4 linked regions of the Homo sapiens genome follow. The protein of the gene in region 3 purifies or fractionates together with the protein of the main gene of each other region. This does not show direct contact. Each region holds a gene or a part of one and is shown on either strand. Other genes may lie near its edges.

Evidence for each region. Proteins that work in one complex are often made in the same cells at the same time.
Region 1: the proteins of GTF2I (region 3) and MAT2B fractionate together in Homo sapiens (co-fractionation; one large-scale study listed by BioGRID). This does not show direct contact.
Region 2: the proteins of GTF2I (region 3) and NAE1 fractionate together in Homo sapiens (co-fractionation; one large-scale study listed by BioGRID). This does not show direct contact.
Region 4: the proteins of GTF2I (region 3) and ZMYM2 fractionate together in Homo sapiens (co-fractionation; one large-scale study listed by BioGRID). This does not show direct contact.

What each region holds. Positions count from the first base shown.
Region 1 is NC_000005.10:163,512,119-163,515,618, forward strand, and holds part of MAT2B (methionine adenosyltransferase 2 subunit beta), read left to right. Parts: coding exon 1-78; intron 79-1,436; coding exon 1,437-1,551; intron 1,552-1,723; coding exon 1,724-1,876; intron 1,877-3,500.
Region 2 is NC_000016.10:66,810,477-66,813,976, reverse strand, and holds part of NAE1 (NEDD8-activating enzyme E1 regulatory subunit), read left to right. Parts: intron 1-130; coding exon 131-190; intron 191-279; coding exon 280-413; intron 414-3,204; coding exon 3,205-3,280; intron 3,281-3,500. UniProt on the Homo sapiens protein: Regulatory subunit of the dimeric UBA3-NAE1 E1 enzyme. E1 activates NEDD8 by first adenylating its C-terminal glycine residue with ATP, thereafter linking this residue to the side chain of the catalytic cysteine, yielding a NEDD8-UBA3 thioester and free AMP.
Region 3 is NC_000007.14:74,734,218-74,737,717, reverse strand, and holds part of GTF2I (general transcription factor II-I), read right to left. Parts: intron 2,258-3,500; coding exon 2,186-2,257; intron 1,219-2,185; coding exon 1,035-1,218; intron 1-1,034. UniProt on the Homo sapiens protein: Interacts with the basal transcription machinery by coordinating the formation of a multiprotein complex at the C-FOS promoter, and linking specific signal responsive activator complexes.
Region 4 is NC_000013.11:20,059,727-20,063,226, forward strand, and holds part of ZMYM2 (zinc finger MYM-type protein 2), read left to right. Parts: intron 1-1,326; coding exon 1,327-1,498; intron 1,499-3,119; coding exon 3,120-3,245; intron 3,246-3,500. UniProt on the Homo sapiens protein: Involved in the negative regulation of transcription.

The DNA.
Region 1 (3,500 bases), on a different chromosome or scaffold from region 3:
AGAAGAGCAAGACCAAAATTTGAACAGGTTAATCTGTTGGATTCTAATGCAGTTCATCACATCATTCATGATTTTCAGGTATGATTTAGGTTATTTTAAGATATACATGAACAATATTAAGAGTTGTCTGGATGATACAGAAACTATCCTTGCTCTCAAGGAAATTACTATGTTTGAAAGCTCTAAAGTTGTATTATGCAGTAGCATTTTTTTCATTTAGCATGACATGGTATATGTAAACCTTAAAGTTAAATTTTGACACGCTGACAAAGACAAATATGAGACATTTTATAAAATGCTTATGTTTATAGAGTGCCTTCTAAGTAATACTTTCTCTGCAAATGGTTTTCAAATGTTACTGTAAACCTCACAACACTGCAAAATAGTTATTTTCATTTTAGGGCTGAGGGAGCAGGCTCAGAGAGGTTTTCGGTATCATTGATACTATTCTCCCTTTGACATGGATTTATTAGATATTTAAATCATGTTAATTGCATAAATGATAGCTCTTTCCTTTTGTCCAAATTGGGGGATAAAACTTGTTTTGATTTAGAAAGACTTCTGTTTTGTTCTTGTTTTTGTGACGTAATCTTGGTTTGTTGCCCAGGCTGGAGTGCAGTGGTGCAGTTGAGCTCACTGCAGCCTCCGCCTCCCAGGGTTCAAGCAATTCTCCTGCCTAAGCTTCCTGAGTACCTGAGACTACAGGCATGCGCAACCACACCTGGCTAATTGTTGTATTTCTAGTAGAGATGGGGTTTCACCATGTTGGCCAGGCTGGTCTTGAACTCCTGACCTCACGTGATCCACCCACCTCAGCCTTCCAAAGTGCTGGGATTACAGATTTGAGCCACCGCGCCCAGCCTAGAAACATGGTTGTTTTATTTTCAGACAGGGTCTCACTCTGTAGCCCAGGGTGAAGTACGGTAGATCGATCACAGCCCACTGTAGCCTTGAATTCCTTGGCTCAAGTGATCCTTCTGCCTCGGCCTCCACAACAGTTAGAACTACAGGCTCATGCCACCACGACTGGCTGATTTTTAAATTTTTTTGTAGAGATTGAGTACCAACCACTATGTTGCCTAGTCTTATCTTGAACTCCTGGCCTCAAGCATTGTCTCACCTCAGCCTCCCAAAGTGTTGGGATTACATGCATGAACCGTCACACCAGAGTAGAAATACAGTTGTTGACAGTTTTTTTCCTGGTTTGTGTCTGCATATTATGAAATACTCTTTTCAGTGCCTATAAATATTTTAAGTTTGAACCTTGCGGGGAAAAGAAGCAGCATGACAAAACTACATTAGAAATTACAATGATTTATTCTTAGTTGAAAGAATGTTGACTTACTGCACATTTTTCTCTGAATTAACTTTAAGAAGGCTGTAATACCTCTTTCATTTTATTTTGAGTTAAAAATACGTCAATGCTTAACTTCTAGCCCCATGTTATAGTACATTGTGCAGCAGAGAGAAGACCAGATGTTGTAGAAAATCAGCCAGATGCTGCCTCTCAACTTAATGTGGATGCTTCTGGGAATTTAGCAAAGGAAGCAGGTAATGATGACTTTATAAAATTTTCATAAAATATTAAGTGATTGCTGAGTTTTTAGAAATTAAGGTTTTGTAGATGGTTATTTGTTTTTATATATCATGAAAAACCATTCTAAATTCCATGAAAGAGTAATGTCATGTAAACATTTAATAGATTTGTCTTCTTTTTTTGTAGCTGCTGTTGGAGCATTTCTCATCTACATTAGCTCAGATTATGTATTTGATGGAACAAATCCACCTTACAGAGAGGAAGACATACCAGCTCCCCTAAATTTGTATGGCAAAACAAAATTAGATGGAGAAAAGGCTGTCCTGGAGAACAATCTAGGTAAGACCTAATCTATTTAGCCCCTGATTGTTTTTGAAGACTTTAAAAATCATTTATACATACACATATATATGTTTTAAATTTAAAAAGTCAATGAATATGAATCATTAGAGAAAAATTAGAATATAGTTAATAAAGAAAATAAAAAATTCTAAGAGATAACTACTTTGTGAATCCTTCAAGACAGTTTCCACTATCAGTGTTTACATATTCATCTTTACACATAGAAAACAAGTCAGGTAATACAAGCTTTTGTAACTCATTTTCAAAAAACAGGGCAGTATAATTTCTCTTAGAGTGAGATATTCTGTTTATGTATTCTGTTATATGTATGTTACTGTGTTATATGTGTATGTATTTTGTTTTTATGTATTCTGTTATATGTATGTTGTATGTATTAACATTCTATTATGGTGTTTCTTTTTTCCTGTATGTGAGTTTGTGTATAACACACATCTCCATATATAAAAAGTATACACTCCTTAGAAAAAATGTAAAATTACTAAGAACAAAAGTTCTCATAAATGCTGCCTCAGGGAGATAAACACCAAATATGGTTAAGTGTGGAAGCATTTTTATATATTTTCAAAAAATGTATGCATGTTGTTTCACAACCTGTTTTTTTTCCCTCAACATCTTTGCATTTTAGTACACATGGAACCTACTCTGGGATATCTTACTCCTATCAGTGGCTGCGTAGTACTTAATTTAATGGTCCCCTGCACTAAAACTACTGCCTTAGACTGTACTATGGCCTTGAGAAGCAGCCCTAGTGTAGAATACCTTACTAATGGACATTTAGTTTTTTAAAAAGTTTTCTTGTATTATAAATTATTCTGTTGAAATCATCCTTGAATACATTTGTCTTAGTTTATTTCGTGCTGCTATAACAGAATACCAACAACTCAGTAATTTATAAAGAACAGAAATTTATTTCACACAGTTCTAGAGGCTGAGAAGTCCAAGATCAAGGTGAGGGTCTTTCTGGTCCTCTGGAGGGGAGGAATGCTGTGTTCTCACGGCAGAAGAGCAGAAAGGGATGTGCTTCTTCCTTCAAGTCCTTTTATAATGGCATTAATCCATTCATAAGAGCAGAGTGCTGATGACCACCTAAACACCTCCCAAAATGCCCCACCTCCCAGCACTGTTGCTTCGTGGATTAAGTTTCAACATGAATTTTTGGAGAGGACAAAAACATTCAAACCATAGCAGTATCTAAGTTCTCTTGTCATGTAATTTAAAAGAAAATGTTTGATTTGCAGTTAAAGTGTTAACTATTGTATACCATCAGCAGGGACCATTATAAAATCTAAATATTAATGAGTGGTTGTAAAACTAATGTGAACACTCATATACCCTTCACATAGATTCACAAATTGTTGATGTTTTGTCACATTTGTTTTATATGTTTGCTTTTGCCAGACCCATTGATAATTAGTTGAATTTCATCTCCAAATACTTTACCTTTCTTTTATCTTCTAACAAGAAGAATGTTCTTCACATAATTACAGTGCAGTTATCATACATTTGGAAACTTAACATTAATATGGTACTGTAATCAAATACAAATCTATTTAGGAATTTTCTCATTTATGCCAAAAATGTCCTTTATTGCTTTTATTTT
Region 2 (3,500 bases), on a different chromosome or scaffold from region 3:
AACCAATCAGAAGTTTGTATTTGATTACAATTTGAGAATTCAAAGAACATATCTGAAGAAATAGCACTGAAAATAAAGATGGGCGAATTCTTAATACTGTGTAAGTAAATGTTTCATGTTCCTTTGTTAGATCCCAAGCAGTATTGAAGATATATTTAATGATGATCGCTGCATAAATATCACCAAACAGGTAACAACAACAAAAGTAAAAACATTGCTGCTAAAACTTTGGGTCAAAGTAAAACGCCACTTAATGTTAATTTTTTCTTATTCTTTTAGACTCCATCATTTTGGATTTTAGCTCGTGCCTTAAAGGAATTTGTGGCCAAAGAGGGTCAAGGAAATTTACCTGTTCGAGGCACAATTCCTGATATGATTGCAGATTCAGGCAAATATATAAAACTGCAAAACGTGTATGTCACTGTTTTCAAACTATGTAATAGAAAAAGTCTGATTATATTAGAGATAAACATTTTATCATCCTGTCAGAAATCAAATGAAAGTTTATTACAACCTCATTGCTTATAAATAAACTAGGCCAGCTGCAGTGGCTCATGCCTGTAATCCCAACACTTTGGGAGGCCAAGGTGGGAGAATTGCTTGAGTCCAGGAGTTTGAGACCATCGTGGGCAACATAGTGAGACTTCCATCTCTACAAATTGAAAAATTAGGTGGGCATGGTAGTGTTCGCCTTTAATCTCAACTACTCAGGAGGCTGAGGCAGAAGGATCTCTTGAGCTCAGGAGTTTGAGGCTGCAGTGAGCCATGATCATGCCACTTCACTTCAGCCTGGGTGACAGAGCAAGACCCTGTTTCAAATAAATAAGTAAAAATAAGCTGAAGAACTTAGACCAGGCTGGGCGCAGTGGCTCACACCTGTAATCCCAGCGCTTTGGGAGGCCGAGGCAGGCGGATCACGAGGTCAGGAGATTGAGACCATCCTGACTAACACGGTGAAACCCTGTCTCTACTAAAAATACAAAAAAATTAGCCGGGCGTGGTGGCAGGCGCCTGTAGTCCCAGCTACCCGGGAGGCTGAGGCAGGAGAATAGCGTGAACCCGGGAGGCGGAGCTTGCAGTGAGCGGAGATCGCACCACTGCACTCCAGCCTGGGCGACAGAGTGAGACTCTGTCTCAAAAAAAAAAAAAAAGAACTTAGGCCGGGCGTGGTGGCTCACGCCTGTAATCCCACCACTTCGGGAGGCCGAGACGGGTGGATCACAAGGTCAGAAGATCAAGACCATCCTGGCCAACATGGTGAAACCCTGTCTCTACTAAAAAAATACAAAAAATTAGCCAGGTGTGGTGGTGCGCACCTGTAGTCCCAGCTATTCGGGAGGCTGAGGCAGGGGAATCGCTTGAACCCAGGAGACGGAGGTTGCAGTGAGCCAAGATCGTGCCACTGCACTCCAGCCTGGAGACAGAGCAAGAGTCCGTCTCAAAAAAAAAAAAAAAAAAAAAAAGAACTTAGGGGGCAATTCTTGTTAAGCTCAAAGCAAAATTGAATGGGAAATACAGAATTACCACATACGCCTAGGAGGCAGAGTTTTTTTTCATACTTCATGATAAACTTAATATTTGATCCCTTAACTCTGTGCTATGAACTATATGTATTAAGTAATTTAACACACACACAAGGTTCACAACGACCTTATGAGAGAGAGAGAGACTGTTACCGGCCCCATTTTACACATGAAGAAACTAAGGTATTGAAAAGGTTACTTATACAAGGTCAGATAGCTGGTAAATGGCAGAACCAAGATTTGAACCCCAGGAAACCCAGTACCAGAGCCTGTATGCTTAGCTATGGCCCTATACTACCTTGTATTTGTAACTTAAAACCATGAAGGTTTGATGAATTTTTTATCTTAATGTTTCATAAGTTATAGTCTATGACTATAGCTAGACATCTTGCTATCCAGGTATCACTAGCCTGAACCCAGATAGACTATCACAGGGATGGGTCTCAATGAATATGACCCTCGTATAGTTAGGGCATGGTGCAAAGAATCCAGGTCTGCTGGCTCGGTTTCTTTGGGGTCCAAGTAATGTCACACAGAGATGATCTCTCTTCCCCAGACAGATTTCACTCTTTATCATGTCACCATTGAACGAATCTTGGTTTGTTGTCCTAGCCTAAGAGTTCAACTACTTAAAACTTGGGGAAGGTCAATTGAGGATAGAAAGAAGTATGACCTTACATGGGAGGTAGTCAGCCTGAACACTGATGATTTTTAGAGGGTGAAAGGTAAATAGACGTAAAGAAAACTTTTATGGCCGGATGCAGTGGCTCACACCTGTATTCCCAGCACTTTGGGAGGCCAAAGCGGGTGGTGAAATGTGCCACAAGGGATGTTCACAGTTGTTTTAAATGGTTGAAATTTTACGTTTTCCATGGTCTGTCTCAGTGGTATAGATACAGATAATAATTGGGTAAGGGTTTTTTTTTCCTCTCATAATAAATACAGAGTATTTTAAAACAATCAGAGGTAGAGCATGTTTATCTATGGCAATGCTAAAAAGGTATGAAGGTCAGTTAATTGAAAATTGTCATTAATACAGTATTTTCAGTTTCTAAATCACTTGAACCCAGGAGTTCAAGACCAGCCTGGGCAACATGGTGAAACTCCGTCTCTACAAAAAAGACAAAAATTAGTCGGGCATGGTAGCGTGTGCCTGAATTCCCAGCTACTTGGGAAGCTGAGGTGGGAGGATCAGTTGAGCGTGGGAAGTTGAGGCTGCAGTGAGCCAGGACTGCGCCACTGTACTCCAGCCTGGGTGGCAGAGCGAGATCCTGTCTCAAAAAACAAAGAAGTTTTACATTGGAGATGAACAGTTTTAATGTATTTAACTTTCCTTGGACTTGACTTCCAGGAGATAAGTCATGTTCTTCAGTAATGTATTTTTTCAGGTCCTCTGTCACAGAAGCCGAAATCATAGATCCCTCTAGGGGAGCAGTTTTTAAGTTGGGTGCTGTTAGAGGGACCCTGGGTTTTAGTGGGCACTGAGAGTCCGTCACTAACACTGGAAAGATTCCCAGCTACTCATGGTGCTGTTGATAGCATTTCCCTGGCATTTTCACATTTCATACATTGTCAGACCTGTGTTTTTTCATGAAAAGGAAAGAAAATTTTTGTTCATGGTAACAATTTAAATTTTGCTAATTTAAAAATTTGTTAGTAATTGCTTTTTATTCTTTTTTAGTTACCGTGAAAAAGCAAAGAAAGATGCTGCCGCTGTGGGTAATCATGTTGCCAAATTGCTGCAGTCCATTGGCCAGGTAAGCTACTGGGCACACTGTGCCCATACAGGCCTCAGCACGTAACTCCAGCCAGAAAGGGTTTAGAGACAGAGGGTGTGGCACTGCCTCTGTGCTTCTTTAGAGGGAGCTGTCATTTCCCTGCCTAATGGGATAGCTTGTGATAAGGAAACAAGATATTTTTAAAGTGCTCTCCCAGCTCTTGGAGAAAGCCTTCCCATCTCACAGTGATTGGCTTTGT
Region 3 (3,500 bases):
CTATCCCTTATAACTCAGTCCCAACAAACACACAGAGGCATGACCCCAATCAGTAAGGAAGGTTTACCCTTCCACATCCCGTCAATGAGTGGAGAGAGGCCTTCTGTTCCTAACCCCGCACCCAAACTAACCATTGTGTTATCCTTCAAAATCAAGCCAGAATTACCTTTCTAAAGGGCGGATCCACATTATTTTCAGAGGCATCTGCCTCGAGACCACTTCGTGACTGCCTCTGTGTTCGTAGGATCTCAGGCCTTCCTCCACTTGCCCACCCAAGTCGATCCATGCAACCCCACCACGCCCACGTGGCAGTCCTCACTCCACACACGGTGGGTGAGTTCTGTGGATACGCAGGCATATTTGCCACCTCCTCCCCCTACTCATATGATTTCCTTCACTTGAAACACCTTCCATCTCTTCTGGATGCACAAGTGACCGAGCTGGGTGTGCCATCCTTGCCTTCTCCCTTAAAAACGCTCAATAACACTTCATTGCATTTTTCTATTTTTTTTTTTTAATTATTTTGAGATGGAGTCTCGCTCTGTTGCCCAGGCTGGAGTGCAGTGGCACGATCTCGGCTCACTGCAACCTCCGCCTCTAGGGTTCAAGTGATTCTCCAACCTCAGCCTCCCGAGTAGCTGGGACTACAGGCTTGCACCACCGCTTCCAGCTAATTTTTGTATTTTTACTAGAGATGGGGCTTCATCATGTTGGCCAGGCTAGTCTTGAACTCCTGACCTCAAGTGATCCACCTGCCTTGGCCTCCCAAAGTGCTGCGATTACAGGCGTGAGCTGCCGCGCCCGGCCTTCAGTGCATTTTTCTTTGTATGAAGGCCCCAAGGACAGTGTTCTTGTTAGACCCAATTTTGCACATCTGATGCTTATACTAATATTTGTTCACTAAGTGAATCTAAATATTAATGCCTTCATTGTCAATAGAAATAAGTCATAAGGTAAACAAAAGGCCCTTCTTCATCAAATTAACCTCTTCTCAGGGAAGACACTGAAACTATTTCTACAGATTATCATCTTACCTTTTAATAACAAATTTAATTCGATTGCCCACTTGAATGATTTTTTCCAGCCTTGGGATTCCATACCATGAGGGACTTCGGAAAGGAATGTTTTCTGGCAGTCCTTCCACGTACAGATCATTCGGGTGTGCCTCAAATTTTTGGTACGGTACAGCCTTGGCTTCAGTGCTCCCCAAGGCTTCCGCTGGACAAAAATCAAAGCAATTCGGGAGACTACATTTGTATTGAAATCAGATTTTAGTACAATCCAAAGAAAGGCACAGGTCAATTTTGTTTTACTTGAAAAAAACTCTTTCTAGAAACATATTTATTAACTATTGAATAGACTTAATACAGCAAAGACAAGTAGAGATGACCGATCATCAACAGCCAGATTTGGGCAGATTTAAGTGTCCTGGTCCTAAGACAATCTTAATAGCTCTGAGATCTTTAAAAGATTAAAGTTTGTTTTTCAATATCCTTAGGAAGAAAAGAGAGAAAGAAAATCATCATGGACAATAGAGGACACAACCTAAATACTATCTGGAAGCAGCCTTTTGCTACTAACTGTTCAGGACCGTAATTACCCTCCTCCATCGGCTATGGCAAACTGGTAACACATTTCCGACTACACTTTCATCTGCGTGGCAACCAGATCAATGTTCTTTACCCCTTCAACCTCACGAGCATGCCATTTTAAAGGAAATAACTTTCCACAGATAATTCATAGAATGGGGGCCGGGCGCGGTGGCTCACGCCTATAATCCCAGCACTTTAGGAGGCTGAGGCGGGTGGATCACCTGAATTCAGGAGTTTGAGACCAGCCTGGCCAACATGGCGAAACCCCATCTCTACTAAAAATACAAAAGTTAGCCAGGCGTGGTGGCGGGCACCTGTAATCCCAGCTACTTGGGACGCTGAGGCAGGAGAATTGCTTGAACCCGGGAGGAGGAGGTTGCAGTGAGCTGAGATCGTACCACTGCACTCCAGCCTGGGCAACAGAGCAAGACTCCTTCTCAAGAAAAAAAAAAAAACCCAAAAAAAAAAAACAGGGAAAACTAAAGCTGAGTCCTATTCACTGTATTTACTTTCCTAAAATAAAACAACATTTAAAAAAATGTTACTCAGTAATACATTTTAGTTGAAGGGGTAATTAAAAAAAACAGACTTACCAAATTTTTTGCAGAAAAGCTGATCCACCATCTTTCTTAATTTAGTGATTCTGGCATACCATTCTTCCTTTACTGTCAAAATAACAGTAATACAAGTGTTCTCAATTTAATGGGTTTAATAACTTGATTATTAAACATTATTACTATAAAATAAGAGGTATAACTTTTCCTTTTCCTATGGCCAAAATTATTTCTAAGATTCGTGGCCAGGTGCAATGGCTCACACCTGTAATCCCAACACTTTGGGAAGCCGAGGCAGGCGGGTCACTTGAGGTCAGGAGTTTGAGACCAGCCTGGCCAACATGGTGAAACCCCATCTCTACTAAAAATACAAAAATTAGCCAGGCGTGATGGCGCACGCCTGTAGTCCCAGCTACTCATGAGGCTGAGGCAGGAGAATCGCTTGAACCCAGGAGGCAGCGGTTGCAGTGAGCTGAGATTGCGCCATTGCACTCCAGCCTGGGCAACAGAATGAGATTCCGTCTCAAAAAAAAAAAAAGACAATAATAAAATTATTCCTAAGATTCTAGAATGTATTTATTTCTAAAACAATGCTGACACTGTACAAAAAGAGGAAGAACGAAACATTCATTAGAGCTAGGAAAAAGCAAAACTCAGTGTATTCAGGAACAGCTAGCAGGTAACACTTGCTACAGGAAGATTAGGGCTATGATCTTGCTGCAGTCCTTCTATCTTAGTAAATATCAACAGGGTGATTCCATTCTGTTTTATCCTCACTCCACTCCACTCCAGAGCAAAAGCAAGCAAGAAAATCAATTATATTTCTATTTATTTTAAAACACATCTAACAGGCTGGGCGCGGTGGCTCATGCCTGTAATCCTAGCACTCTGGGAGGCCGAGGTGGGCAGATCACCTGAGGTCAGCAGTTTGAGATCAGCCTGGCCAACATAGTGAAACCCTGTCTCTACGAAAAATACAAAAATTAGCTGGGCATGGTGGCAGGCACCTGTAATCCCAGCTACAGGGAGGCTGAGGCAGGAGAACTGCTTGAACCCAGGAGGCGGGAGGTTGCAGTGAGCGGAGATCGCACCACTGCACTCCAGCCTGGGCAACAGAGCAAGATTCCCTCTCAAAAAACAAAACAAAACAAAACAAAATACATCTAACAATTAAGAGATGATATAAATGGCTCCATGCTCTAAAAGGAAACCTTCTTATGTCCTGCATATCATGGACATTCAATGAATGCTTGTTCCATTGACTCGTGTAGACTTCAATAATAAACTGTTCAATGCATTATGCCAGATAAATCTTGCATCAAAAGTAGAACAAATATTGTTCTTTTACTTCTGT
Region 4 (3,500 bases), on a different chromosome or scaffold from region 3:
CAGGTTCCACATCCGTGACCAAACACAGACTGAAAATACAGTATTCTGCCTGTAATCCCAGCACTTTGGGAGGCTAAGGTAGGCGTATCTTCAGCCCAGGAGTTCAAGACCAGCCTGGGCAACATGGTGACACCCTGTCTCTACTAAAAATGTAAAAATTAGCCAGGCACAGTGGCATATACCTGTAATCCCAGCTACTTGGGAGGCTGAGGTAGGAAGATTGCTTGAGCTTGGGAGATGGAGGCTGCAATGAGCCGTGATTGCACCACTGCACTGCAGCCTGGTCTACAAAGCAAGTCCTTATCTCAAAAAAAATGAAAATAAAAAATTATTTGAGGATGTGAAATCTGTGTAGAAGGCTGACTGTAGGGGTGTGGAACTTGAGTATGCATAGACTTTGGTATCCATCCACAGGTGGTCCTGGAACCAATCCCCTAGAATACTGAGGATAACTCTAGTTGCAGTTACTAGTTTAATGAAGCTAATAAAACCATCTTTACCTTTCTTCGACAGTTAACTTAGATTTGGTTGAATCTCTGTTGTCATGATTGATTGCTTTGTGTATAGTATGTATATGTTCATCCTCGAGAGTGACATTTCGCGGATGTCTGTGCCTGCTCTGTGCATATTAAGTTTATATTTGGGTTCATTTTCAAAAGGAATATTTGTGGGCCATGTGCAGTGGCTCACGCCTGTAATCCCAGCACTTTAGGAGGCTGACATGGGCAGATCACCTGAGGTCAGGAGTTCAAGACCAGACTGGCCAACATGGTGAAACCCCCTCTCTACTAAAAATACAAAATTAGTTGGGCATGGTGGCACATGCCTGTAATCCCAGCTGCTGGGGAGGCTGAGGCAGGAGAATCGCTTGAACCCGGGAGGCGGAGGTTGCAGTGAACTGAGATAGCGCCATTGCACTCCAGCCTGGGCAACAAGAGTGAAATTCCATCTCAAAAAAAAAAAAGAAAAATATTTGTGAAGCCATAAGGTTTAGAACTGAAACATAGAATTTCATATAAAATATTATTTTATCCCAAATCACTTGCAGTACTTAGAAGAACACTGTGTCAGGGCTTGGCTATTATAGTCCCCTGGGGGACAGAAATACTTCAAAAATTCTTTTTCTTTAATTTGAATTCCAAAAAGTAGATGCTTGTATTCTAGGCTTTCTTATCACAGTTAACATCTTAGTTTTGTATGTGTTCTTTTCAAAGCTTTTATCCAGTGTGATATTACAAAGTAGATCATGTGTCAGAGTAATTTTTAATTTGGAAAAATACCTTTTAATGTTTAGTAAACCTAACTCAAAATGATTTGGTTAATTAGGTGCCAGTTCCTGTTTTTCTGCCTGCTCCATTGGACAGCAGTGAGAAGATTCCTGCAGCAATTGAGGAGCTAAAAAGCAAGGTTTCTTCAGATGCTCTTGATACAGAGTTGCTTACAATGACGGATATGATGAGTGAAGACGAGGGGAAAACAGAGACAACCAACATCAACAGTGAGCTACACTAAATTATACCTTGCGAATAAGTGTTAACATTGGTTATTTATAAGTATTGTTACAGTACTTTCCAGGGCATATCATTTTGTTTCAACTTATGTGGGGGTGAGGAAAGCATTGTAACAAAAATGTTTTTTATATTAAGAGATCTACACTGTATTTAGCCAGGTGCCCTCAGACAGATATCCGAAGCAGGAATTTGGTCTTTGGTCTCTGTTTTAAGCAGGATTTGACTTGTAAAATCAACTCAAAATTATTCTTGTTAATGGAGTAGTGCTGATGCAAAACTATAATAACTTGTAGTAGACTCTAATGATGATCAAAACTCTTATTTTGTAATAGTTATCCCTAGTTTTTTGTTTTGTTTTGTTTTTTTTTTTAGATGAACTCTTGCTCTGTTGCCCAGGGTGGAGTGTAGTAGCATGATCCCGGTTCACTGAGATCTCTGCCTCCTGGGTTCAAGCTATGCTTCTGCCTCAGCCTCCTGAGTAGCTGGAATTACAGGCACGTGCCACCACGCCCAGCCAATTTTTGTCTTTTTAGTAGAGACAGGGCTTCCCTATGTTGGCCAGGCTGATCTCAAACTCCTGACCTCAGGTGATCCACCTGCTTCCCAAAGTGCTGGTATTACAGGTGTGAGCTACCACACCCAGCCCCTAGTTTTCTTTTATTGCTTATACTAATAAAATAATTTGCATTATCTAAACCAGAGTTTATCTTAACCTCTGTTAGGGCAGTGCTTGCGCTACATGGTATAACGTGATGAGTGTGTTGTGGATGGTTCTAAGTCACTTAGAATATTTATTTTCCACCCTTAACCCTCTCTTGATACCCAAAGTCCTATTTCAACCTTGAGCTAATTCTTACCCTTACCCTAGAGGACAATCAAAATACTATAATTTTCTCTGGATTTAATAATGAGACAGTGTTTTTGAAGCACTGTGGTAAGGAGTTGTGAAATTAGTGGGTTGCAACCAGTGTTTTTGTTTAAGAAAAGAAAAAGCTAAGTGGAATAGGGTAAGAGAAATGACAGTGTGAATCCCTCATAGAAAGGGTAAGTATTATTTTGTGAAACCAGTGTGTATACAGATGTCTTTCTGTTCCCCACCATCACCTTGCAGTATGTGCTGGATAAAATGCATTTCTTGCCATGATTACAACACAAAAACACTTGAAAGCAACTGATCGAACCATTAAAAGGCAGTTGTTAATATGCATATATTGAACAATCTGAGAAACCTGGGTCAAAATTCAAAGAGTATTGAAAACTACAGTTGTCTACCCTCATTAGTTTATTTTTGACAAAAAGTTGCTTTTAGAAATACTTTACTTGTTGAAGTTGTTTTACTATCAAAGCATACCTATTAGCTTTTGAAGGGAGTCCTCCTGTAAAATTTATAGGATTAAAAGTTTTCATGTGCTTGTGACTAATTATGAGGTTTATAGTGGTTTACATTTTGAGATAGTTATATATATAATATGCCCTTTTCTTTTGTGACATTATACGTATTTTTTTATATTGCATTTAAAATTAAATGACTTGCTTTTGCCAGATTAAATACAGATACCATTGGGGTTTTCTGTTTTGATTCCTAATGATAATATGGATTGATTTCAGGTGTAATTATTGAAACAGATATAATTGGTTCAGACCTTTTGAAGAACTCTGACCCAGAGACACAGTCCAGCATGCCTGATGTACCATATGAACCAGATTTGGATATCGAAATAGATTTTCCCAGAGGTACTCAAAACCTTTATGACTATGGAATTTAGTTATGGAGTCAACTGTGGTTATGATCATTTACCATTTGATGTTTGTGTCATTGCCTTTTAGCAGTGTTCATATTTTTTATTCTTGTTATTTTTTAAACTCACCTTAAGAGTTAACTTCATATTTTGTTGTTGTTTTTTTTTAAAAACCCACCTTAACAGTTAACTTCTGGAATGAGATCACTTGAGTCCAGGAGTTCAAGACCAGCCTGGGCAATGTGGTGAA